5 separate regions of the Homo sapiens genome follow, and regions 1, 2, 4 and 5 are each linked to region 3. Evidence: fine-mapped expression QTL. A gene starts in region 3. Each other region holds a variant in brackets. All regions are shown on one strand. Distances are between the middles of the regions. Region 1 overlaps TAGLN (transgelin). Region 2 has its middle 7.1 kb from the start of SIK3. Region 3 holds the start of SIDT2 (SID1 transmembrane family member 2). Region 4 overlaps BACE1 (beta-secretase 1). Region 5 overlaps SIK3 (SIK family kinase 3).

The links. PIP is the estimated chance that this variant, and not a neighbour inherited with it, causes the effect.
Region 1: its variant is the best candidate, but not a certain one, in a credible set for the expression of SIDT2 in activated naive CD4 T cells (Schmiedel 2018, PIP 0.52).
Region 2: its variant is the best candidate, but not a certain one, in a credible set for the expression of SIDT2 in whole blood (TOPMed, PIP 0.56).
Region 4: its variant is the best candidate, but not a certain one, in a credible set for the expression of SIDT2 in testis (GTEx, PIP 0.61).
Region 5: its variant is the best candidate, but not a certain one, in a credible set for the expression of SIDT2 in whole blood (TOPMed, PIP 0.56).

Annotation. Positions count from the first base shown.
Region 1 is chr11:117,205,646-117,210,747 of GRCh38, forward strand. TAGLN (transgelin) reads left to right here. Exons shown (of 5, transcript NM_003186.5): 5 at 1-1,819. PCSK7 (proprotein convertase subtilisin/kexin type 7) reads right to left here. Exons shown (of 17, transcript NM_004716.4): 13 at 3,252-3,408; 14 at 2,325-2,419; 15 at 1,422-1,515; 16 at 1,036-1,153; 17 at 1-711. The coding sequence ends at 352. Among named protein-coding and RNA genes, the nearest start is that of TAGLN, 8.8 kb to the left of the region's middle. RefSeq lists enhancers at 112-742, 743-1,373, 1,374-2,004, 2,845-3,345, 3,346-3,846. The variant C/T (reference allele first, on the strand shown) is at 2,017.
Region 2 is chr11:117,102,988-117,108,089 of GRCh38, forward strand. No RefSeq gene overlaps it. Among named protein-coding and RNA genes, the nearest start is that of SIK3, 7.1 kb to the left of the region's middle. The variant G/A (reference allele first, on the strand shown) is at 2,564.
Region 3 is chr11:117,175,711-117,180,800 of GRCh38, forward strand. It overlaps SIDT2 (SID1 transmembrane family member 2), which reads left to right and starts at 3,033. Exons shown (of 26, transcript NM_001040455.2): 1 at 3,033-3,736. The coding sequence starts at 3,554. It also overlaps a transcript of PAFAH1B2 not described here. RefSeq lists a silencer at 3,132-3,341 and an enhancer at 4,322-4,391.
Region 4 is chr11:117,304,798-117,309,899 of GRCh38, forward strand. The region is part of intron 1 of BACE1 (beta-secretase 1); the gene reads right to left. Among named protein-coding and RNA genes, the nearest start is that of BACE1, 8.9 kb to the right of the region's middle. The variant C/T (reference allele first, on the strand shown) is at 2,287.
Region 5 is chr11:116,988,829-116,993,930 of GRCh38, forward strand. The region is part of intron 1 of SIK3 (SIK family kinase 3); the gene reads right to left. Among named protein-coding and RNA genes, the nearest start is that of SIK3, 110 kb to the right of the region's middle. The variant A/G (reference allele first, on the strand shown) is at 2,236.

The DNA.
Region 1 (5,102 bases), 30 kb after region 3:
GCACCTTCTCAACTTATATGTGGGAAGGGGTCCCCCATGCTTGGGGGACCTAGGCAGCTGGCTTGGCCCAAGAGAGATGAGGATGGAGGCCAAACCAAAGGGGGGCGCCAATCCCCTGTCCAACACCTTCTCACCAAAAGCTCCCGTTTGGCTGGAGGCAGACCCTGTGGCTCTGACCAGACTTCTCTGGCAGCAATCCTCCACCATTTGTATCTTAAGAAGGCCCTCACCCTCTTTGAGTGGAGTCAGAGGATGCCTCAGATTCCAGATGTAAGCATCAGAACTGCTTTCTGTCAAGAGCTCCCTAATTTTGGGAAAGAAGAGCCTGTCCCACACTGTCAGGCCCTGAGGTCAGCAGATCTGCTCCTCCTTCCCGTGCGGTACGTCTAGGTGCTGATGAGGGCAGTCCAGGGCGCTCTTGTTCTGGGACAGGCTCCAGTCCCCTTGCTCCAGCAGGTCTGGGGCAAGGAGGTCAGAGGTGGTGGGAGGGCCCCTGCTCTCTGTTTCCACTTCGTCTGGATCCTTGCTGCTGCAAAGTGGCACTGATTCTAGCTCTGTCCCTTCCTCCTTGGCTTTCCGGCTCCGATGGGGCCAGTGGCAGGGTCCACTCCTACAAACTTGATTGGAAGCCACATTCCTCTGGCTCAAATATACTTCCAGCATGTAGTAAACAGTCCAGAAGACGGTGAAACAGCCTACCAGCACCAGGGTCTGGGGCCGAGGCAAGCACCTACGTGAGGCACTGTTTCCCGAAGCCTACAGCCTTTCTCAGCCCAGGACAATGAGCTCAGAAAGTCTTTTTCCTTCTAGGGACTGCCTTTTTCACCCAAACTGTTCCCTCTGCCCCCTCCCCCGACAAGGCCTGTCCTGTAAGAGTTAGGCTAGCAGGGTAGGAGCAATGCTATGAAACCACTGCTGGGACCCAGGTCTTCCCAGTCCTTCACCCCGCAGGTCACCCTGAGAAACACACTAAGAACTCCATCCCCCAGACAGGACAGTCCCATCTACCCGCAGCTTGAGTCTTGGCCCTAGTACCTTGAGGGTGTTGGGGGTGATGGTGTAACCATCTTCCTCAGGAATTTTCAGCCCCGGTGGGCAGGGCAGGGCGAAGTCATCGTGCAGGTATTTTCCACTCATGGCACTCTCTAACAGCCTGTGGAGAAGAAAAGAGGTGAGGATGCCCCACTGACTATGGTTCCTATACCATCTGCCCTCACCCATTTTCCTGCCTTACAGGTGAAGACAGGGAAGCCCCACAGCAAAAAGGAGAGGCCCAGACTGTGAGTTCCCAGCCCGGGGCTCCATCTACCGGCTTGACGCTGGAACTGGGAAGCACAGCTGGGGTTCAGAGGGCGATGGGCTCCCTAGGCGGCCCTTCCCCTGTGACTGGCCTTCCCTCTGACACATGCGGCTTTACCCACCTTTGTCTGTCCCTGATGTCTACTGCACTCCACACAGAGCCATATAGGGTCAGCTGCCATTGCCGGAGGATGCCGACCTGGAATGACTCATCCCCTAGGGCAGCAAGGGGCAGCTCGTGAGCCACGCCCCTCTGTCAGCCATGCCAGACAGCAGAGGCCCTGCCCGCCCTGCCACCCAAAGGGGCTCAGGCCACATGGTCTGCTCCAGGAGCTGCCTCACTGTGTCCCACTGACCCCAGGTTCTGCAGAAGGGCCTCACTGGGTGCCCTTAGGGATGGAAAGGGTTGAAAGGCTGTACTCCAAAGCAGAGTCTTGCTTTTCTCTCCCGTATTTTGGGGGTTCAGCTGGGATTAGAAAAAAATGTCTTTCCACCAAATTAAAGAAAGCTTTGAAAACCACTGGCCTAGAGAATACCTAACTGACTGGAGGATGGGAGGGTGGAGCTCAATTTCCAGTCTATAGGCTGATACTAAAGATATTCACAATTCATGGATATTGTGGCCTTCACTGATATGGTGACCTTCCACAAGTCACCTCAAACCTCTGGGCCAGTTTAAAAAAAATGGTGAAATGAGTCCTGCCCTTACCTGCCTAC[C/T]GGGGCTGGCCGAAGGATGGTTATACGTAAAAGGACTTGAAATGTGGTTTCGACAAGGACTTTTTGTTGCTATCCTGAGGAAAGATGGATGGGTCACTCCTCCAGGGAATATGAGAGGTAGTATAAATGAACAGTTGCAGAGAGCAATGCCCATTTCACGGATGGGCACACTCTTGGCATCAACTCTCTTGGTCCAATGGCAACCCTATATATTGCACACGGGACACTTTCTGTGGGGACTCTGAGATGCAGAGGGACCAGATAACAAGCAGGAAAGGTAGGGCCTGGTGTGAGGGCACGAGACTCACCGACATCCCTGATGACAAGCCTGTAGGTCCCTCGGGCTCTCTCCCCCCAGCATCGCACAGTGGAGAAGGTCCAGTCATTGAAGCCGTTGGGATCCCTGAGGAAAGAACACAGCAGAAACAGGTGGAAGGCGTGGGCCAGAGAGCTGACCTTCCCCCAGCAACACTTTCTTACTGTAGTAGCCGTGGAAACAACCTGGGAGGGTGCCACGAGGGCTTCTCAGGTGCCCCTTTCCCCTGGGGTCTCATGGAAGGAGGAAATTGTGTTAACGTGGTGTGGTGGAAAAAGCAAGCATGGAGCGCGCACAGGCTTGGAGTCCCACGGATCTAGGTTTATTCTTGTTCTCTTGGGCACTTACTAGCTCCATGACTTGTTTTCTTTTTCTTTCTTTTTTTTTTTGGAGACAGGGTCTCACTCTGTTATCCAAGCTGGAGTGCAGTGGCATGATCACAGCTCACTGCAGCCTTGACTTCCTGGGTTCAAGTGATCCTCCCACCTCAGTCTCCTGAGTAGCTGGGACTACAGGCATGTACCACCATGCTCAGCTAATCTTTAAATTTTTTGTAGAGACAGGGTCTCACTTTGTTGCCCAGGCTGGTCTTGAACTCCTGAGTTCAAGTGATTCTCCTGCCTTGACCTCCCAAAGTGCTGGGATTACAGGTGTGAGCCACCACACCCAGCCAGTTTCCTCATTTGTAAAAGGAGGTTACAAAGTCTAATCTAGGGGGTTCTTAGAAGGATTAGAGAACATGTATGTGAGGTGCAGGGCCTAGCGCTTGAAGAAGGTATGTGACGAAAGGCTTCCAGCCGCCAGGGATAGCCAGTGCCACAGTAGTTTAGGACAGTGCCAGGATCCACTTCTTCCATTTCTTTTCCCTGGAAAGGCCCTTGCTGAAAAGGTTGCTCAGGCCTCGGGCGGGTGTACATACGAGTCCATGCTGCGGGGGGCGCCGATGAGGGACATCATGCCACTGGGGCAGAACAGCTTCAGCTCCAAGCTGCCGCGCCGTGGGTGAGTGATGGAGACTGTCACTGCCACATGCTCCAGGGTCTTCAGCCCTGACATCTCCAGGTCCATCCTGCTGACTGTAGAAAGTCAGGCTGGGCAGCTGGGAAACCAGCCCACAAACACGCCTTCACTTCACCCCCACGTACACAAAGACACACGCTCACTGAAGCCACATACAAACATCTACGGCAACCCTAACTGGGACCTCGCCTATACTAGTAAATGGAATGGAGCTGCTGCTCTCAAGTTTACAACGTAGCTTCGAGTGCAGTTGGGAAGACGACACATACCCAAGACACAATATAAGAATCCAGCAGAGCAACTTCAATCATTCATTCATCCAAAACATTATTTACTGGGTACCTCCTCCATTTCAGGCACTGTACTAGATGCTGGGAATATAAAGATAAGATGGGCGTGGTCCCTGCCTCCTACCTGCAAGTGGAAAATGATATGGTATGGGAAATATACATAATTGATAAGGGAAGAGAAATAAGTCAGATGGGTTTAGGCACACAGCAGTGAGACACACTGAAGGAAATGAATACAGATCGGTAGACAGGGTTGGTAGAGGGCATTCTAGGCAGTGGAAAAGGCATGAACAAAGACGAAATGCACACATCTCACTGAAGATGATGCACAGTTAATTTTTAAAAAATGCTGGTGGATAAATTTCAAGCAAATTATGTGAGTGAAAAAAGCAATCTCAAAAGAAGCATATAGCCAGGTGTGGTGGTGTGCACCTGTGGTCCCACTACCGGGGAGGGTGAGGTGGGAGGATCGCTTGAGCCTGGGAGGTGGAGATTGCAGTGAGCCATGCTCATGCTACCACACTCCAGCCTGGGCAACAGAACAAGACCCTGTCTCAAAGAAAAAAAAAAAAAGAAAAAGGATGCGTAGCACACAATTCCATTTAGGTGATGTTAATTGAAGTACCTGCAGTGATACATAACAGATAAATGGGTGCCAGGGGCCAGGGACAGGGGAGGGGATGGGTGTGGCCAGAAAGGGGTAACACAAAGGAGTCTTGTGATAATGGAATTGTTCTGGATCTTGGTTGTGGTGGTAGTTATGCAAGGCTACATGTGATACAATTGCATACAGCTACACACGCGCATACACAAATATTGACAGCATGTGTATCTGGTGAACTCCAAATAAGCTCTATGGATTGTACCAATGTCAATTTCTTGGTTTTGATATTATACTTTAATTGTGTGAAACATTAAGATTGGGAGAAGGGTGCACGGGACTTCTCTTGTACATTTCTTTGAAACCTCCTGTAAATCTACAATTATTAAAACAAAAACAAAAACAAAAAACTACTGAAGAGGAAGACTCAACTGGGGACTATTAAGAAATTAGGCTGTAATGAGAACGATTCTTTTTTTTTTTTTTTTTGAGACAGAGTCTCTCTCTGTTGCCAGGCTGGAGTGCAGTGGCATGATCTTGGCTCACTGCAACCTCTGCCTTCTGGGTTCAAGCGATTCTCCTGCCTCAGCTTCCCAAGTAGCTAGGACTACAGGTGCACGCCACCATGGCCACCTAATTTTTGTATTTTTAGTAGAGATGGGGTTTCACCATGTTGGCCAGGATGGTCTCAATCTCTTGACCTTATGATCCACCCGCCTCAGCCTCCGAAAGTGCTGGGATTACAGGCGTGAGCCACTGCACCCGGCCGAATACAATTCTTTTTAAAGCACCCTTTCTTCCATTAATTTATTCCAGGCCAGGCATGGTGGCTCACTCCAGGCATGGTGGAGGATAACTT
Region 2 (5,102 bases), 73 kb before region 3:
ATTAGCCAGGCATGGTGGTGGGCACCTGTAGTCCCAGCTACTCAGGAGGCTGAGGCAGAAGAATGGCTTAAACCTGGGAGGCAGAGGTTGCAGTGAGCTGAGATCATACCACTGCACTCCAGCCTGGGTGACCGAGCAAGACTCTGTCACAAATAATAATAATAATAATAAAAAGACTGTGTTCTGCATCACCACCTCAGCTGTGTGGCTTTTGCCTTTTTCCTCGTCTTTCTCAGATCCACCTGGTCACATCCCAATTTCCCCAGGGCATCCGAAGCAGGTCTGAGCAGCCAAGGATAACTACTTAGTCTCCTGCTAGAAAATATCTCAGGTAGGTTGTATAAGGGAAGCTAAGTAAGCTTTCAGTCAACGACTTTCTGTTCAGTCTGCCCACATTGTTCTTTTTAATGTAGCCATTCAAGCTGTGATGCAAAACATAAAAATTGCCCTTATTACTTTGCATATGTTCTAGGATATGGTTGAAACATTTTTAGATTATTATTAATTATCCTTTGAATAATCCAAAACATCTTCAGGCTGGAGTGCAGTGGCGCTATCATAGGTCACTGCAGCCTCAACTTCTTGGGCTCAAGTGATCCTCCTGCCTCAGCCTCCCGAGTAGCTGGGACTACATGTATACACCACCATGCCTGGCTAATCTTTTTTTTTTTTTTTTTTTGAGACGGAGTCTCACTGTGTCTCCCAGGTTGGAGTGCGGTGGCGCGATCTCGGCTCACTGCAAGCTCCGCCTCCCGGGTTCACGCCATTCTCCTGCCTCAGCCTCCCAAGTAGCTGGGACTACAGGCGCCCGCCACTACGCCCGGCTAATTTTTTGTATTTTTAGTAGAAACGGGGTTTCACCGTGTTAGCCAAGATGGTCTCGATCTCCTGACCTCGTGATCCGCCCGTCTCGGCCTCCCAAAGTGCTGGGATTACAGGCGTGAGCCACCGCGCCCGGCCCTGGCTAATCTTTTAATGTTTTTATACAGACAGGGTCTTGCCATGTTGCCCAGGCCAGTCTCAAATTATTGGTCTCAAACAATCCTTCTGCCTCAGCTTCCCAAAGTGTTGCGATTACAGGTGTGAGCCACTGAACTGGCCAAGTATAATTTTCAAAAGGTCTTCTTCAACCTTAGATGTGACTGTATTATCATTTGGGATCAATGTCTTCCTTGGGCAAATATACCTTTGGTTTTATAAGAAAAATCAATGGCAAAATACATTTAGTAAAGAAAAAAAATCATCTAGGACAACTTTTTTTTTTTTTTTTTGAGATGGAGTCACGCTCTGTCACCCAGACTGGAGTATAGCGGTGCAGTCTCGGCTCACTGCAACCTGCACATCCTTGGTTCAAGCAATTCTCCTGCCTCAGCCTCCCAAGTCCCAAGTAGCTGGGATTATAGGCACCCGTCACCACGCCCAGTTAATTTTTGTATTTTTAGTGGAGACAGAGTTTCACCATATTGGCCAGGCTGGTCTGGAACTCCCGACCTCAGGTGATCCACCCACCTCGGCCTCCTAAAGTGCTGGGATTACAGGCGTGAGCCACCACACCTGGCCAGGACAACATTTTTAATAAAAGTGTGTTCCTTAAGGTGGAGGATCCCTTGTTACCCTGTAATCAACTCTCTAATATTTATACTACTAATTTTTGTCTTATAATTTACTTATTTCTCCTAAGTAAAAAATATGATATTCAACAAATATTGATTAAGATATTGACATATTTGGATCCTTTTCTTTCCCTTGAATATCAAAGTGTACCTAGATTCTAGAAAGTCACCATGTTTCACCGAAAATGAAGGCATACTTCAAAGGTCTACCTAGGGTGAAAGTTTTCCTTATTTCCCTAGCTCTGCACTTACAAAACTGCATTTTTCTTCTTTCCCTTCATCTTCACATCTATTCTCACGGAAGAGCCGTCTCTTCTGCAGCACCTGCCTTGGGAACTGCCTCTCAGTTTTCAAAGCTCACCTTCACACAGCCTGGTGTGTTTCAGGTGACAGGACAGATGCTCTGCTTTTAAAGCAGCTTCCTTGCATTAAGGGTCGGTTTTGAGCCAGGCACAGTGGCTCACTCCTGTAATCCCAACACTCTGTGAGACTGAGGTGAGACGACGGCATGAGCCCAGGAGTTCAAGACCAGCCTGGGCAACATAGCAAAACCCCCATCTCTACAAAAAAAATTAAAAATTAGCCAGGAGGGGCTGGGCACGGTGGTTCACGCCTGTAATCTCAGCACTTGGGAGGCTGAGGCGGGCGGATCACGAGGTCAGGAGATCAAGATCATCCTGGCTAACACGGTGAAACCCCATCTCTACTAAAACTACAAAAAAATTAGCCGGGCGTGGCAGCCAGCGCCTGTATCCCAGCTACGCGGGAGGCTGAGGCAGGAGAATGGCCTGAAGCCGGGAGGTGGAGCTTGCAGTGAGCCAAGATCGTGCCACTGCACTCCAGCCTGGGGGACAGAGCGAGACTCCGTCTCAAAAAAAAAAAAAAAATTAGCCAGGAGGCTGGGCGCGGTGGCTCACACCTGTAATCCCAGCACTTTGGGAGGCCACGGC[G/A]GGCGGATCACGAGGTCAGGAGATGAGACCATCCTGGCTAACACGGTGAAACCCCGTCTCTACTAAAAATACAAAAAATTAGCCAGGAGTGGTGGTGGGCGCCTGTAATCCCAGCTACTCGGGAGGCTGAGGCAGGAGAATTGCTTGAACCCGGGAGGTGGAGTTTGCAGTGAGCCGAGATCACGCCACCCCACTGCACTCCAGCCTGGGCAACAGAGCAAGACTCCATCTCAAAAATAAGTAAAAAAAAAAAAATAGCCAGGCATGGTGGTGCATGCCTGTGGCCCAGCTACTTGGGAGGCTAAGGTGGGAGAATCACTTGAGTCCAGGAGGTCAAAGCTGCTGTGAGCCGTGATCACACCACTGCACTCCAGCCTGGGCAGCAAAGTGAAACCCTGTCTCAAAAAAAAAAAAAAAAAAAGTGGGTTTTGCTTAAGTTTTCTACCAGCCTTTTCAGCTGTTGGCTAAGAACAATTTATACTATTGGGATTGGTTTCTGTAGGTAGCTGACTTACCTTTGTTTGCTTCATTTCTGCCACAATTTTTCTCAAACTAGAAAATCCAGTCTTCTACTTCTTGAGGCCAGATTCCTATCCCTTGGCTGCAGAGACACCTTCTGGTTGAAGTCCTAAACTACATGATGCGTAACGAATACTCCCTTTTCTTTTCTGCTAAGGAAGGCTTTCTAGTCCTTTCTATTTAAACTGTAGGCCATTGAAAACCACAAACCCGTATAGGAGCCAGAAAGCTGGAATCCGAATGGAAGCTGGCTTCAGGAAGCTAGATTTCTTTATGGCCAAATACAAAGTACAGTGGGGGCCAGGCGCGGTGGCTCACGCCTGTAAACCCAGCACTTTGGGAGGCCGAGGAGAGCTGATCACAAGGTCCGGAGTTTGAGATCAGCCTGACCAACATGGTGAAACCCGTCTGTACTAAAAATATAAAAATTAGCCAGGCGGGGTGGCACACGCCTGTAATCCCAGCTACTCAGGAGGCTGAGGCAGGAGAATAGCTTGAACCCGGGAGGCAGAGGCTGCAGTGAGCCGAGATGGCACCACTGCACTCCAGCCTGGGCGAAAGAGTGAGACTCCGCCTCAAAAAAAAAAAAAAAAGAAAGTACAGTGGGGTAGGCTTACAATTGTGTTTTAGGCTTAAGTAGCAGTCCATGCTGTGTGTGTTTGTGTGTGTATGTTTTGAGACGGAATCTGGCTCTATCACCCAGGCTGGAGTGCAGTGACATGATCTCAGTTCACTGCACCCTCCACCTCCGGAGTTCAAGTGATTCTCCTGCCTCAGCCTCCCAAGTAGCTGGGATCACAGGTGTGCACCACCACACCCAGCTAATTTTTGTATTTTTAGTAGAGACAGGTGTGGTTTTCACCATGTTAGTCAGGCTGGTCTCAAACTCCTGACCTCAAATGATCCACCCGCCTTGGCCTCCCAAAGTGCTAGGATTACAGGCTAGAGCCACCACGCCTGCCTTTTTTTTTTTTTTTTTTTGAGACGGAGTCTTGCTCTGTTGCCCAGGCTGGAGTGCAGTGGTGCAATCATAACTCCCTGAAGCCTCCAACTCCTAGGCTCAAGCTATCTTCCCACCTCAGCCTCCTGAGTAGCTGGGACTGTAGGCATATACCACCACACTTGTCTTAAAAAAAAATTTGTCTTTTGGTTGGGTGTGGTGGCTCACATTTGTAATCCCAGCACTTCGGGAGGCTGAGGCAGGTGGATCACCTGAGGTCAGGAATTCAAGACCAGCCTGGCCAACATGGTGAAACCCCATCTCTAGTAAAAATACAAAAAATTAGCCAGGCGTGGTGATGCGTGCCTGTAATTCCAGCTACTGGAGAGGCTGAGGCAGGAGAATTGCTTGAACCGGGGAGGTGGAGGTTGCAGTGAGCCGAGATTGCACCATTGCACTCCAGCCTGGGCAACAAGAGGGAAACTCTGCTTAAGAAAAAAAACTAAGGATGAAGTTATTTCCATTTATTTTTATTTAAAAAATAATTTCATTCACTTGGCACATTTAAGAGCCAGGTCTGTTATCTTCTCTGGAAAATCACTCCTACCTAATGAGGTCGTTAGGAGAATTAACTTATAAATATGTAAAGGGACCTAGATTAGAGCCTCGTACATCCTCCCTCTAAATTCCAAAAGTAGGTAAACAATAACATACTGGTTTCCAAATCACTTTCAAAAGATTAGGAATGATTGAGAATAGAATTAGGGCTGTGAAAATGGATTAACTTCAGAGTTAAAAGAAAGTTGTGGTTTAAATGTTTCGATTTGGTTTACTAAACATGCATAGTTCAATCTGTGGAATGTGGATATATTTGTGTTTGTGATGCAACTCTGCATGTCCAATGAAAACATTCTTACTCTCAAATTTCATAACGTAGTTGTTATCCCCACTTTATAGATGGTCAACTTACTTTATCTATCTGATGATTGGCTCCTACAGCCAGTAAGTGGTGAAGCTGAGATGTAATTCCAAGGCTGCTGATCTCCAAAGCCAGTTGTCTTTCCAAATATTAGAATATAC
Region 3 (5,090 bases):
AAGTGTGAAGTAGGACTCTGGATGTGCGTTTAAAACAGGCGTAGGGTCACATCTTGCCCCAAAGTTATGAGGCCAACTTAGAGTAGTGGTGCTTGCCTGTAATCCAGCTACTCGAGAGGCTGTGGCAGATCGCTTGAAGCCAGGAGTTCAAGACCAGCCTGGGCAATGTATCACGAGTGTTTCTTAATGTTTCAGATTATTTACTGGCAAGATGAGCAGGATTACCATGAAAGAAAAGTCCAGATGGACTGAGGAAATCCTACACTGATTCTCCAAACTTGGCAGCTGACTGCATGGAGGGCTCATGATGAAGAAACCTCTTTTGCCATCCTGAGGATTCTCTGATTCATATTCGCCTAGATGTGCTGGAAACAGTACTGGACCAAGGTGCAAACTTGAGTCTAGTGAGGTACTAATGGGCTGAAGTTTTTCTGAGCGTCACTTTCCTCATCTGTATAATGAGGGGTTGGCCAAGGAAACCCATAAGGTTATCTTCCAGCTGACTTTCTAATTGGTGAACCCTTTGGAAAAGGGGTGCAGCTTGCTTCTGGTCTTCATCCTCAAGTATGCTGTGCTTGGACAGGGGCCAAAACTAATTCCTCCACTCACCATTTGCCCAGCATAACTACAACAGTACCTGGCACATCGTGGATGCTTATTAAATATTTATTGCAGGAATGAGTAAATATAACTAACTGATCATAAGGTAAAATAGTCTTCATTGGAACAAGGCTCCAGATAGTTGGGCAGGGCTGGGAGCTGAGACTGCTGCAATCCTGCCAGCTGAGAGAACTCTGACAAGGCACTGATCTGGGTGGCTTTATTAGGATGTCTGACAGCTTCAGAGGTGGCCACATTTCTTTTCCTTTAAACATGTCTAATTTGGCCGGGCGCAGTGGCTCACGCCTGTAATCCCAACACTTTGGGAAGCCTAGGTGGGTGGATCACTCGAGGTCAGGAGTTCGAGATCAGCCTGACCAATATGGTGAAACCCCGCTTTACTAAAAATACAAGAAATTAGCAGGGTGTGGTGGCGGGTGCCTGTAGTCCCAGCTACTTGGGAGGCTGAGGCAGGAGCATCGCCTGAACTCAGGAGGCGGAGATTGCAGTGAGCTGAGATCACACCACTGTACTCCAGCATGGGTGACAGTGAGACTCCATCTCAAAAAAAAAAAAAAAAAAAAGTCTAATTTGTCTTATAAATGCAATATATGTGGCCAGGCATGGTGGCTCATGCCTATAATCCCAGCACTTTGGGAGACTGAGGTGGGTGGATCACCTGAGGTCAGGAGTTCGAGACCAGCCTGACCAATATGGTGAAACCCCGTCTCTACCAAAAATACAAAAATTAGCTGGGCGTGGTGGCACATGGCCTGTAATCCCAGCTACTCGGGAGACTGAGGCAGGAGAATTGCTTGAACCCAGGAGGCAGAGGTTGCAATGAGCTGAGATTGTGCCACTGCACTCCAACCTGGGCAACAGAGCGAGACCCTGTCTCCACCCCCCGGCAGATAAAAAAGCAATATATAAATATATATACATTGTAGAACATTTGTAAATCTTTTTAAATATAAAAAATAAAATTTAAGAACCACTCACAATCCATTATTTTTTATTTTTTGGTACTACTCTATATTTTTAGAATTAAAGGAAAATGATATACAATATGTGTTATTTTTAAAATTGTAATTCAAAGATAACTACTGCTAAATTTTATTTTTAAAATTTGCCCTGCTTTCTGGAGACATTGCTAAATGTTTAGTACAATTTTTTTCTATTTTTCTATGCATGTCTATATGCATTTGGAATATATACGGTTTTATTTACTTATTTATTTTTGAGACAGAGTCTTGCTCTGTTGCAGCCCAGGCTGGAGTGCAGGAGCATGATCTCAGCTCACTGCAACCTCCGCCTGGTAGAGTTAAGCGATTCTCCTGCTTCAGCCTCCCCAGTAGCTGGGATTACAGGCACGCGTCACCACGCCCCACTAATTTTGTATTTTTATAGTAGAGATGGGGTTCACCATGTTGGCCATGGCTGGTCTCGAACTCCTGACCTCAAGTGATCTACCTGTCTTGGCCTCCCAAAGTGTTGGGATTACACGTGTGAGCCACGGCACCTGGCTCTATATACTGTTTATTTAGTGTCATATCCTGAATTCTCTGCTTACGTGTCCTGTGAAGTCTTAAGCATCATTTTTGATGCCTTCATGATAGTGCATTTAACCAATCCCTCATTATGGATATCCAAGTCATTTCCTTTTTGCTTTATATTATAAATATCACAGTGATAAGCGTAGCTGCCCAGGTATTTTTATCTGTGCTTCCTATTTCCTTAGGATAGAGTCCAGAAGTGGAATTACTGGATCAAAGGGTATAAAGCTCTCTAAGTTTCTTGAAACAGTGCCAAAATATTTTGTAGAAAAGTTTTCACCAATTTACACTGAAGGTCAGTATCTTTCAATGAGTTTTGTAACTGTCTCTGAGAGAAGAGGGGAAACAGCCCGGCAAGCTTGGAAAGCTCGGAAGGCCGTCCCTGCAGTTGTGTGGCCCCTCTAGAGGGAGGTGGGAAAGGCATGGGGATTCCTCCTGCAGTGCTGCCTCCGTTTCCCCTCCGCCGGTAGGGCCACCGTCCTGTTTCCTAATCCTTCGAGTTTTTCATTTTTTAAGATCCCCGGAGAAAAAGTGGCCCAGGGTTGGACGATGTTAGTTGTAAAGGTGGTGGTGGGGGTGGGGGAATCCTTATGTTTGAGCAAATGTAAGAGTTGTTCAGCAAGAACCCAACACTTGGAGATTGTTAACAGAAACATCTGCCTATTCCAACGTGAGTTTCAGAGATGGTGAAAATCACGGGAGAGAGTTGGGTAGGAGTTGGAGAAGGCATTGCAAGCTTTCCCCTTCAGCTAGACAGCTGCAGCCCCTTTAAGGGCAAATGCGGGACCTGGTCCTTTAAATCTGTGTCAGTTTCCCCTGACGTCAGCGGGCGGGCCAGCAGCCCTGCTGTTTATCGCCCAGCGGCGCAGCTCACTTTTCAGTGTTCGTGCGTCGGGACGGCGCGTCCGCCCGCCCTTAAAGGGCCCGCACCTCGGAAAACTCGCAGCCCAGCACGGCGTCGGGTAGCTACCACCTATCACGCCCCTCACTCTGCGACTCGCCTTCCTCCGCGGCCAGCCCCCGCCGCCGGCTCTTCCTCCCTCCCCTTTCCCGGCGTCTCCAGGCTCCCGGCAACCAGCCGCCCTCCTTCTCACGGCCCTGGCCCGGGGCTCCAGGGTCTCAGGTCGTACTCAGCCCCTCGCGAGCTGGGACCCCTTCCCGTAGCCAGCATCCCCTCCCTCCCCGCCCCCTCCCGGCCGCCCCCTCCCCTGCGGGGACCCTGGGAGCCTCTTCGGGGCTCTTGGGAGGGGACATTTCCTAATCTCAGGCCGGGGTTAAAGTTCTGGTCCTGGTGAGATGCTGGAAGCTGCGGCCGCAGCCGCAACCCGTCCCGGAGGTGTCCTGTCTCCTGTCGCCGCCGCCGCCGCCACCACCGCTGCCACTGCCGCCCTGCCGGGGCCATGTTCGCTCTGGGCTTGCCCTTCTTGGTGCTCTTGGTGGCCTCGGTCGAGAGCCATCTGGGGGTTCTGGGGCCCAAGAACGTCTCGCAGAAAGACGCCGAGTTTGAGCGCACCTACGTGGACGAGGTCAACAGCGAGCTGGTCAACATCTACACCTTCAACCATACTGTGACCCGCAACAGGGTGAGGGCTGGGGGCTTAGGGGCCAGAGGCGAGTGGGGAAGCCGACGAGGGCTAGGCGATTCTGCCGCCCCGCTACCCTTTTGGGAGGCCCCAGGAACGAGCTGTCCTGCTAGGTTCCCAGTTCCCAGAACCACACTGGAGCCTCTTGACCAGTCCTCCTTCCTTTGCCACCAATGTTTCTCTGAAGCTCCAGCTGGGCAGTTTTTGAAGTTGGCTCATTCCCATCTTCTCTTCCGCCCCCATTCTTCCATCAGTTGTGGTCTGAGCACACATGGCTTGCTCTCTACCCTAAACCCCAGAATCTGACAGCTCTGTGGGGTCTCGGTGGGAGAGGAAACAGGCTTATTACTGGGCTTGCCCAGAAAACCTCAGGGGAATGAGACTGGCCCAGAACTGAAAAGCTCTGTGCAGGCAAGTTACATCTCAGACTCCCCAGGGAGATGAATGCAGGGCTTCCCAGCCCTCTTCCTGCCTGGGAGAGCCAGCTGGCCTTGTAAATTGAGGGTGACAGAGGTTTTATAAGGCCAACTGCAAGTTGGGTGGGAAGAGAAGGGGAATTTGTCCACTGTGAAAAATCCACTTCACCCTGACTTCTCTTTGGTTTCTTCACCAGCTGTGAGTCCCTGAGTTGAAATAGACACAGCTAGTGTGGGAAGTCTAGACCCCAGGCAGAGCTGAGATTGGGAGAATTCTTGCAACCTGGCTGTGTGGTCTCGTGCCCGGGTCTCTTGCTCTCTCTCCATGACTGCCGTTTACTGAGAAGCAATGGAGTTGAGAATGGGGAATCTGATTTTTTTTCAGAACGGGGAGTGGTTTGGTTTCTGTGGCAGGCCAGGATCTGCCCCCAGTGCCTGGTTCTCTGAAGTTTGATCTCTTTCTGCTTAGAGTCCTTTCTTCCTTTTTTCCCATATCTAAAGGCACTGGAGAGCTGTGGTTTTTACTCTTTTGGGAAATGCTGCCCTAGGGCTTGGGTTTCAGCAGCCCAATAACAAGCATTCCAAGATCGATTTGGTTTTATTTTTCCTTTAAGCTCCCATTGTTTATATATGTTCCTTCATAGCTCCAAGGGTGAAGATCACTTTATCTTTTTTTTTTTTTTTTTTTTTTTGAGACCAGTCTCACTCTGTTGCCCAGGCTGAAGTGCAGTTTTGTGATCTCAGCTCACTGCAACCTCCGCCTTCCCGGTTCAAGCGATTCTCCTGCCTCAGCCTCCCAAGTAGTTGAGATTACAGGCGCCTGCCACCATACCCAGCTAATTTTTGTATTTTTAGTAGAGATGGGGCTTCACCATGTTGGCCAGGCTGGTCTCAAACTCCTGACCTCAGATGATCCTCCTGCCTTGGCCTCCCAAAGT
Region 4 (5,102 bases), 130 kb after region 3:
TCCCACAGACTATGAGCTCCACCAAGGGTAGGGAGCATTTGTATTGCTTATTACCTAATTGTTACCTAGCCCTGAGTAGATGCTCCGTAATGATTTTTTTTTTAATTGACAGCAACTGCCTCATTCCCTGCAGTTAATTCCTATGACCCTATGGACTCTTCCTATTCTTTTTTTTTTTTTTTTGAGGTGGGTTCTCACTCTGTCACCCAGGCTGTAGTGCAGTGGTGCAATCTTGGCTCCTGCCTCAGCCTCCCGAGTAGCTGGGATTACAGGCACCCGCCACTACGCCCAGCTAATTTTTGCATTTTTAGTACAGACGGGGTTTCACCATGTTGGTGAATATCCACCCAGGGTCCTGTGGTTCTTAGAGCAGTTATAGTGACTCCAGGCCTCCTTAGTCCCAGAACCTTGTGAGTCAGCTTCATCTGCTTTTCCTAAGTGATTTCCAGACCTGAGCTTACCCAAGGCTGAGAAAAGGGGGCAAGGAAGGACAAGAGGAGCCTAAAGTCAGCAGCGGGGAGGGGCTTATGGCCAACAGAGCACACAGCTCCTGTCTCAGAGTCCAGCGACTGGGTCCTGTCCAGGTTCCTCCCACCTTGAACAAATCAGCCAGCCCTGTGCAAATGGACTCCTTTTCCCAGCTAGTTCCTCTGCCTTCCACTTGCCTCTCCTGGCTGTAGCTGGCCATTGGTACCTGGGAGCAAGCAGGCTCCCTGGCGCCACTTACCCCACCTCTGGCTGGTTTTTCAAGGAGTCCCAATGTGGCTGGGTCGCCCCAAACCTTATCTAGTATACCTTTCCCCCTTTGGATGGGATGCCCCATTTCTCCGCAGCCTGTAACCCGGCTCAACTAATATTTGCCAGTGCCTCCTACTCCAATAGAATGATGGATGTCGATGGTCCAAGAGTTTATGACAGTAATTTTCAAACTTTTTTTTTTCTAAAGCAGCAGAATCAGCCGCGCGCAGTGGCTCACGCCTGTAATCCCAGCACTTTGGGAGGCCGAGGCGGACGGATCACAAAGTCAGGAGATCGAGACCATCCTGGCTAACACGGTGAAACCCCGTCTCCACTAAAAAATACAAAAAATTAGCCGGGCGTGATGGCAGGCGCCTGTAGTCCCAGCTACTTGGGAGGCTGAAGCAGGAGAATGGCGTGAACCCAGGAGGCGGAGCTTGCAGTGAGCCCAGATCGCACCACTGCACTCCAGCCTGGGCGACAGAGTGAGACTCCGTCTCAAAAATAAATAAATAAATAAAAATAAAAAATAAAGCAGCGGAATCCTTTTCCCCTTTTCCAATTGTATGCAGGATCCTAGTGTACAAGAGAGAAAAAGACAGAGGTGTTCTGTTTGAAGGGGAGGTTTGATTTCCTCTGCTTCCCTCCCCTGCCTGTGCTGGCTCTTGAGGCATCTCTTCAGCACCTTTAGCCTCTGCGGAACCCACCTGGAAAACCCATGCTCCACAAGGTATCACAGCAGCTATTCGCCACCTGTTTTTCATGGTCAGACAGTAAGTCCTTCCTGTTATTTAACCTTGTCCCACCCACAGGTTACAGTGGCTTGAATCTTCTCTTGCTCTGTCCTCAGTTGAAAATGAAGCTGACCATGGCACCTGTGTCACGCTCAGCACATGGGCTTGTTTATTCAAGCCATTGGGAGATGCTAGAACTCACTCCTTGTCCTACCTGTCAAAACCTCCACAGGCCTTGGAAAAGAGTAAGTGGTAGGGCCAGGCACAGTGACTCACGCCTGTAGTCCCAGCACTTTGGGAGGCTGAGGTGGGCGGATCACTTGAGGTCAAGGAGTTTGAGACCATTCTGGCCACATAGTGAAACCCCGTCTCTACCAAAATATATATATAAATTAGCCGGGTGTGGTTGTGCGTGCCCGTAGTCCTAGCTACTTGGCAGGCCGACGCTGGAGAATTGCTTGAACCCAGGAGGTGGAGGTTGCAGGGAGCCGAGATCGCGCCACCGCACTCCAGCCTGGGCAACAGAGTGAGACCCTGTCTCAAGAAAAAAAAAGAAAAAAGGCTAAGTGATGAGATTCACTGACCTTGAAAGACCAAGCAAGAGGACACCCAGCCTACAGTGCGCAGCAGAGAGGGTGGCCCCAGAGTGACAGCAGCTCAGGAAATATGGTGACAGAGGATAAGTTGGCATGGGAGGAGGCAGAGCTTGGCCAGTTTGCTTTGAGGAAAAGGACCTAGGAGTCCCAGCTCCCCCACGTCAGAATCCCCCCAGTTCTGCTGATTTCCTCATTCTCCCCAGCACAGCCCAGCTCTC[C/T]TATTTTGGGAAACACCTGGCTATAGTACCCAAGGCTGCGGTACTAAGGATGTACTCAGGTGCTGTCGCATCCTGCCAGGAGAATCTCAGGGCAGCTCCAGAACTCAGAAAATGTTCTGGTTCCTTCCCAGAACTCTCCCCTGCCCAGGCACCTGAAAGAGAAGGCTCCCAGGAGAGACAGAAGTTAGTCATTAGGTATGGGGGCTTCCCTGGGAGGTGTTTCTCTTCCTGGATTTTCTTTTTTTGAGATGGAGTCTTCCCCCTGTCGCCCAGGCTGGAGTGCAGTGGCATGATGTTGGCTCACTGCAACCTCCGCCTCCTGGGTTCAAGCGATTCTCCTGCCTCAGCCTCCTGATTAGCTGGGATTACAGGCACGTGCCACCATGCCCAGCTAATTTTTGTATTTTTGGTAGAGACAGGGTTTCACCACGTTGGCCATGCTGGTCTTGAACTCCTGACCTCAGGTGATCTGCCTGCCTCGGCCTCCCAAAGTGCTGGGATTACAGGTGTGAGCCACTGTGCCTGGCCTCTTTCTGGATTTTCAACTGGAATTTTCTGCCCAGCCCTTTATTGGAGAGGCCCAAGAAGGGTTCCTGACCTTCCACCTTAGTGCTTTTAGAGAGAGCACAGTCTTTCTCAATGCCCCCTCACTCCCAGCTAAACTCTTCTTTACTGGTCTGGGGAGTAGAGGAGAGGTTTGGAATGACAGGATGAGTGCTCCAGCAAGGGCTTGTGTGCAACCCGAGGCCCAATCCAGGAAAGCCAGTTGTGGTGGCAGGGACTGGGTAGGCAACTTATGGAGCCGGGGTCTTGCTGGCTTTGTCTAATTTGGAGGGTGGTTCTTTGAGCTCGATGGTTTTCAACCTTTTTATTGCAAAAACTCTTTTTTAAAAAAATATAACCCAGAAGTCCACTGTATAAAAACAATAAAAGCAAAGTTATCCTGGGATGCTCAGGAGATTTGGGGCGGGGGGATGGGGATGGCTTGGTGACAGGAAGGGCGGGGATCTAGAGTGTTGACTGCTCCCAGCCTTCTCCCTCACCGCTGAGGTCCCTTTACAGAACCCTGCCAAGCAGGGAAGGAGAGGAAAAAAAGAAAAACCACCTGGTCCTTCTTGGTTTCTGAGACTCTGAGCCCTCATAGTTTTCTACTGCTCTGATCATTTTCTCTTGCTCCCTTGTCTATACCTAATATTCTTTTCCTAATCATTTTTCTCCTTTCCCTCTCTGTTCCCTCAAAGAACAAGTCTATTTTTTAACTTGGCCTCTCTGTGGATGAGTCCTGTCTGCCTGTCCAGTTCTAACTTCTCTCCAGATTCCCACTGTCAGCTGGTGGCTGAATACTTCCACGAGGATGACCCACTAGCATCTCAAAGGCATGTCCCAGATCGTAGAACACAGGAAGGAAAGGCCCCGGTATTTGAACCCCTACTCTGTTCTTCTTAACAGAATCACTTTGGACAAGACACTTAGTCTCTCTGGGTCTCAGTTTCCTTATCCCTGAAATAGATATGCTAATACCTATCCCTTATAATTAAAGCAGAATAATAAACATAAACTTTGGTAAACTATATTGTACTTCCTGGCTGGGTGCGGTGGCTCATACCTGTAATCCTAAGACTTTGGGAGGCTGAGGCGGGCGGTCACTTGAGGTCAGGAGTTTGAAACCAGCCTGGCCAACATGGTGAAACCCCCATCTCTACTAAAAATACCAAAAAAAATAGCTGGGGGTGGTGGCGGGCACCTGTAATCCCAGCTACTTGAGAAGCTGAGGCAGGAGAATCACTTGAACCAGGAGGTGGAGGTTGCAGTGAGCTGAGATCGCGCCACTGCACTCCAGCCTGGGTGACACAGCGAAACTCCATCTCAAAACAAACAAACAAACAAAAAAACTATATTGTGCTTCAAAAGCTTTCCCCTGTTGCTTTGTTCCCTGACAAAAAGTCAGAGAGGTTAAATAAAGCCATCATCTCCTCTTCCCTCTCTCTCACCCCATACATCTCATCAAGCGCAGAGAATAACTGGTTAAACGATGGATGAATGCTGATTCCTCCTTTCTACCCTCACTGCCACCATCCTCTTTCAGGCCCCCGTATCCTGAGATCCTTGTTTGCATGTCTAGAGTCATGATGCTAGACTCTCCAAGTTATTCTGCACACTGAAGCTGTTTTCCTGGAACTAAAATTAGACGATATCATCCCTCTTCTCGTATACCTACAAGGATTCCTTACTGTTTGCAGAATAAAACCCAAAGTCCTGTCAGCCCCATGGCATCCCCACCATGCCTTCTGGCTTCTCACCACAGTTCACGCTTTTCTTCATGAAGTGCTCCTCCTCACCACTCTCCATATTGCAAAGCTTTCTCCTCTTTCAAATACCTCCGTTTTGGCTGGGCGCGGTGGCTCACGCCTATAATCCCAGCACTTTGGGAGGCTGAGGCGGGTGGATCCCTGGGCGAGACTCCCTCTCAAAAACAAAAACAAAACAAAACCCTCCTTTTCCAGCAAGCTGTGCCTAATACCATGTCAGAAGTAGCTGCTTCTCTCTGTGCACTTCCAAGATCCACTGTTTCACTATTTGTACCAAATGCATTTGGTTTTGTGTAATATTTAGGTATTATGTCTATGTCTCACATCAGATTGTGAGCTGTCCAAGGGCTAAGACTATGGCATTATTTTTCTCTTCTACACACAGTAGGCAAGTACTCAACAAATATCTGTTAAACTGAATTGACTATCACCAAATTTCACTCCTAACAGTTACCTTATTATCCTATGTTTGGTCAGTGATGCTCATAATATCAAAATGAGATAACA
Region 5 (5,102 bases), 190 kb before region 3:
ATAAATATAAATGTGTGAGAGTTTTATGGAGAGGAGTACAAAACTTCACTGAAAAATCTAAAAGAAGACAACATATGCCCTGTACATCAATGAACCTAAATACTGGAAGAAAAAACAAAACAAAACAAAAAAAAACCCTCAAGTCTCCCTTTCTGTCCCTACATAATCCACACTCTAGTCTGTCTCCCAAATAAGACTACAATAAGTAAAGGAGTATTCTCCTGTATTTGGTGGTAATAATGGCAAGAGAACACAGATGGAAAAAAACATGAGGATAAACCAGGAAAACATGTCTTACCCAAGCAGTTTAAACTTTAAATGCAGCTTTCTAGTCTATGATGCCCAGCCAGCAGCACCTTTCCTTCCACTTTTTTTTTTCCCCGCATGTTCGAATGTCTCTCAGATGATATGTGTTTCCAAGCAGTTCTCTATTCGCTTTTTAAATCAGTAAGGTCTTTTAAAATGCAAAGTCAACTTTGGAAACAATGTGGGCCAGCCAGAAACTAATTTAACATTGTAACTTTATAGCTCACCATACACTTATTTAAGGTCTGCACAACCTTGCAATTTAGTACTCTGCCACTCTGCCTCTTGAAAATAAGCAAAATGTTGCTGGCTCAACACAATAGAAACTATCGTTCTAAATCCCAAGAGCAAACAAGTAGAACCAGGTCAGTCCTCTGAGACCTCCAGTACCAAAAAGATACAGTATCAGTAAAATCCTAATAAAAATTATAAATTGAAACTAAAGGCAACCCAAGTTTTTTTTTTTCAATTAGTATACTAGAAGTAAAGAAGGGATTGGAAAAATTAAAATGAAAAATTAGACTTGACTGTGAGTTCCTATTACTGTGAGTAGTTACTGTGAATACCCTGACTGGGAGTTCCTATGACTTCCCACTACTGTGGACTTCCAAATTAAAAATATCAGGCAGATTTTGACACATGAAGTAAGATGTGGTTGGGCAATTAACAAGAGTAAATTTTTAAGTTAAGCAGATAGTTTCTGAAAGTTTAACTTGAAAAGGTAACTAAAAACACACATAGGATTTTAGGTTCAAACACTACTACAAACTGGGAAGTAAAAGCAATTGAAATTTCAAGTCTAATAGAACAATTTCTGTGTCTCAATCTTTTATTATATAGGATCCAAGGCAGCTGAAATTTAAATTTCAGTCTGAAAACAGTGGCAAAAGACCTTTTCTTCTCACTCAGAAAAAAATAAGCTTGGAACAGTAGACCTTCTGTGAGAAGGCAGCAGGCCATTCTGTATTTCAGCGGGGTCGTCATATAAAGAAAAGGCTATGACTGAACACATGAACTATGCAACTTCTTGGCAGCAATACATGTACTTACCAATACCAATCACTGTTGTGATCCCGCCTAGCCAACTACCAGCAAGTCTGCACTAAGTCTACAATTCAAAGGTGAGAACTTTCCTGAATAAAACCACTGTGGAGGCCAAGAGTGTCTAGACCTGAGGAGGAGTAGACCTGCCAACATCAGAGCACTCCCCAGTTCAAAGAATGAACTTCTTTTTCCCTTTGAGAGATAGAGATAATGCTGTGAATGGGGCCAAAGGTCAGGAGGCTTACCAAAACTGGGTATAACCTACATACATTAACGAGTCAAGCAACAAATCTGAACTCAGAATACGTGGTCTAATACCTTAGTATAACAGTGCAAATTACTTTATTGGCAGTATATTGAAAGTAAATTTTTTAAAAAAAGAAAACATTAATAGGCCACTACTCACTCGATCACTCTTCCCAGACACAAGTATCTCCAACCAGACAGCAATAACTTCCACATTCGTACCTCCAGGCTTCGTATTTCCAACAGCCACCTCCACAGTATTACCTTTGTGTCCTTGGGTACCTTAAACTCAACCCATCTACAACTAAACTGATTATATTTTCTTCTCCTACCAAACCTCCTCTTCCACACTGAATTCCCTTGTCACCTAAAAGCACTGTTTGGACAAACCAATAACTTCCTAATTAATCTACTTAACAAGGTCTCCTCCCCTCCACCTCCCAAAATCATTAATCCTTCACATTCCATTAATTTTCTTCTACAATGAAAGCTGTTACCACAAAATAATCACTACTATTTTTCAGCTACATTTACAGTGTGTCAAGAGCTGTGCTTTACATATTATCCCGTTCAATCAAATCCTCACAACAGTTCTTTCAGGTAGGCATTATTATGCTTGTTTTACAAATGAATTAAACC[A/G]AAGTTTAAGGCTCATCCAAGGTCAGAGAGAGAGCTGGTTAGTGGGAGACTAAGGATTTAATATCAGGCACTCTTTTAACCAATATAAAAGTAACCTGCCTTGGCTGGTCATGGTGGCTCATGCCTGTAACCCCAGCACTTTGGGAGGCCAAGGTGGGCGGATCCAAGGTGGCCAGGAGTTTGAGACCAGCTGGCCAACATGGCAAAACCCCGTCTCTATCAAAAATACAAAAATTAACCAGGCATGGTGGCACACGCCCGTAATCTCACCTACAAGGGAGGCTGAGGCATGAGAATCACTTGAACCCGGGAGGCGAAGGTTGCAGTGAGTCGAGATCATGCCACTGCGCTCCAGTATGGGCAATAGAGCAAGGCGCTGTCTCAAAACAAACAAAAACCCCTGCCTCATTAGAGAATGCTTTCTAAAAATTGAGGGAAGGGAGAGAAACAGGTATAATTTGAACACTCTAATAACTAAGTTACAAATTCATTATTTAACATATAGTTTCAGTCAAGAAGTACAAATAATTCTATACTATTAGAGATACTCTCAAAATACTGATCTGATCTAAAAGGTCTAACCAACCTATTACTTAAATGATAAAGTAAGTGAAACTATTTCACAATCGGCCTTCAACCTATCTTTCAACTAGATTTTCCAATATTCCCAGCCACTTTCCCCTCCTATCCCCATACTTTTTGGTACAAACCACTATACACAGCTAGTAAGGCCCATTCAATCTCCTATCACCAGGTCTATGGCAAATTTTTTCAATGCAGCCTTCTCTGACATCTTCAGGCAAAATTAACTCCTCCTTCCTCTTGCTTTTATGGCAGGTTTTTCATTTCTAACTCATAGCATACATATCTATATACATATACACCCATACACGTATATCACTAAATTTATTACAGACACCAAAAAAGGGGGTAAATCTTGTCTTTCTACGTATTTAGACATACATACAAAAAACTCGTGGCCGGGCATGGTGGCTCATACCTGGAATCTCAGCACTTTCGGAGGCCAAAGCGGGCAGAACACTTGAGGTCAGGAGTTCGAGACCAGCTTGGCCAACATGGTGAAACCTCATTTTTACTAAAAATACAAAAAATTAGCCAGGCGTGGTGGTGGGCGCCTATAATCCCAGCTACTCAGGAGGCTGAGGCAAGAGAATTGCTTGAACCCAGGAGGTGGAGGCTGCAGTGAGCTAAGATCCTACCAATGCACTCCAGCCTGGGCAACAGAGCAAGACCCCCCCCCCCAAAAAAAAACACCTCATATATTTGTGTGCATTTACAGGGAAAGGCATTTATATAGCAATTCTTACTATTTCTGATTCTATTGTTTCCTTTCTTATCCACTCCTTACCTATATCCCATACACTCTACAGCATTAAAAAAACAAAATTACATTGAGGCCAAAGTAAAATACTTCCAAATGTAAAAATAAATGATATGGCAATTAGCACTACTGTTAGGATGGACCATGCAGCACCCAATACATATTAATTGTACAATCTGTTTCATTTGTATACAGAGAAGCAGGGCTTTTCACTGTGCTTTACCCAGCAGAAATGGTTGTCTTTGCCTAGGATGCTAAAGGATCAAGGAATTGGAATTCAAAAAGTTATCACTAGGTCAGGAGCAGTAGCTCATGACTATAATAATCCCAGCACCTCGGGGAGCCAAGGCAGGAGGACTCTTGAGCCCAAAAGTTCAAGACCAGCCTAGGCAACATGGAGGGACCTCATCTCTACAGAAAAATTTAAAAATTAGCCAGACATAGTGCCATGCACCTGTAGTCCCAGCTATTTGGGAGGCTGAGGTGGGAGGGTCACTTAAGTCCAGGAGATAGAGGCTGCAGTGAGCCGTGATCATGCCACTGCTCTCCAGCCTGGGTGACAGAGTGAGATTCTGTCTCAAAAAAGTATCTCTAAAGGACCAAATGTGAACAACAACTAAACAGATTTTTATTTTATTTTATTTCTACTTTTATTTTTATTTTAATAAACAGAGTCTCACTATGTTGCCCAGATGGGTCTCAAACTCCTGGCCTGAGGTGATCCTCCCACATCAGCCTCCCAAAGTGGTGGGATTACTGGCATGAGCCACTGCACTCACCCAAAAGCTAGATTTTTAAAACTTTAAAAACCCCTCCCCACAGTAACAGAAATGCTTTTAACAGACACAACTGATTTTTTAAAAAAATAAATCACAGCATAACCATCTAGAAACGCAACTATGCCCACCATTTTCAGACTGTTTTTTCCTATACAACACCTTACATTCCTAAAATAGCTTAATTATGGAATTCCTGGTTTAAATGGACAACAATTTCTTTATTATTGTTTAACTTTAAAAAAGAAAACCAACCTAGAAACAACAGAATAAATTTAGCCTTATATGGATGAAACCCTGTTATAACTGACCTAAAAATACAGGTTACTTAGCTTCTAAAAATGATTTTTTTTCTTCCCATCCTTCTAATATATTCTAAAAAGTATAGAGGAGCAGATATTTAGGAAAACATGTATATTCCTTTAGTGCAATCCTAAAGCAGCAATGAAAAAACAACTTGAGTAATGGGAGGGGTAGTGGAGAGGAAGAGGGGCTGAACAGACGTCAGCAGGGTGCAAGGGGAGGATGGGTTGCCTAGGAAACCAAACAGTAAAGAATGAGCGGAAAAATCATTAGCTGAAAAACCTCTGAAATGCTTTTACAAGAGCTCAATCCTTCATCCCAAAAGATGTACAGCAAAGAGACCAATTGTCACAAATGACAAAGGGAACTTACAGCGTGACAGCCAAGCAAGTGCCTTTTCCGAACTGTGTGGCACACAGACATCAGGAGGAGCAACCATGAGTGAG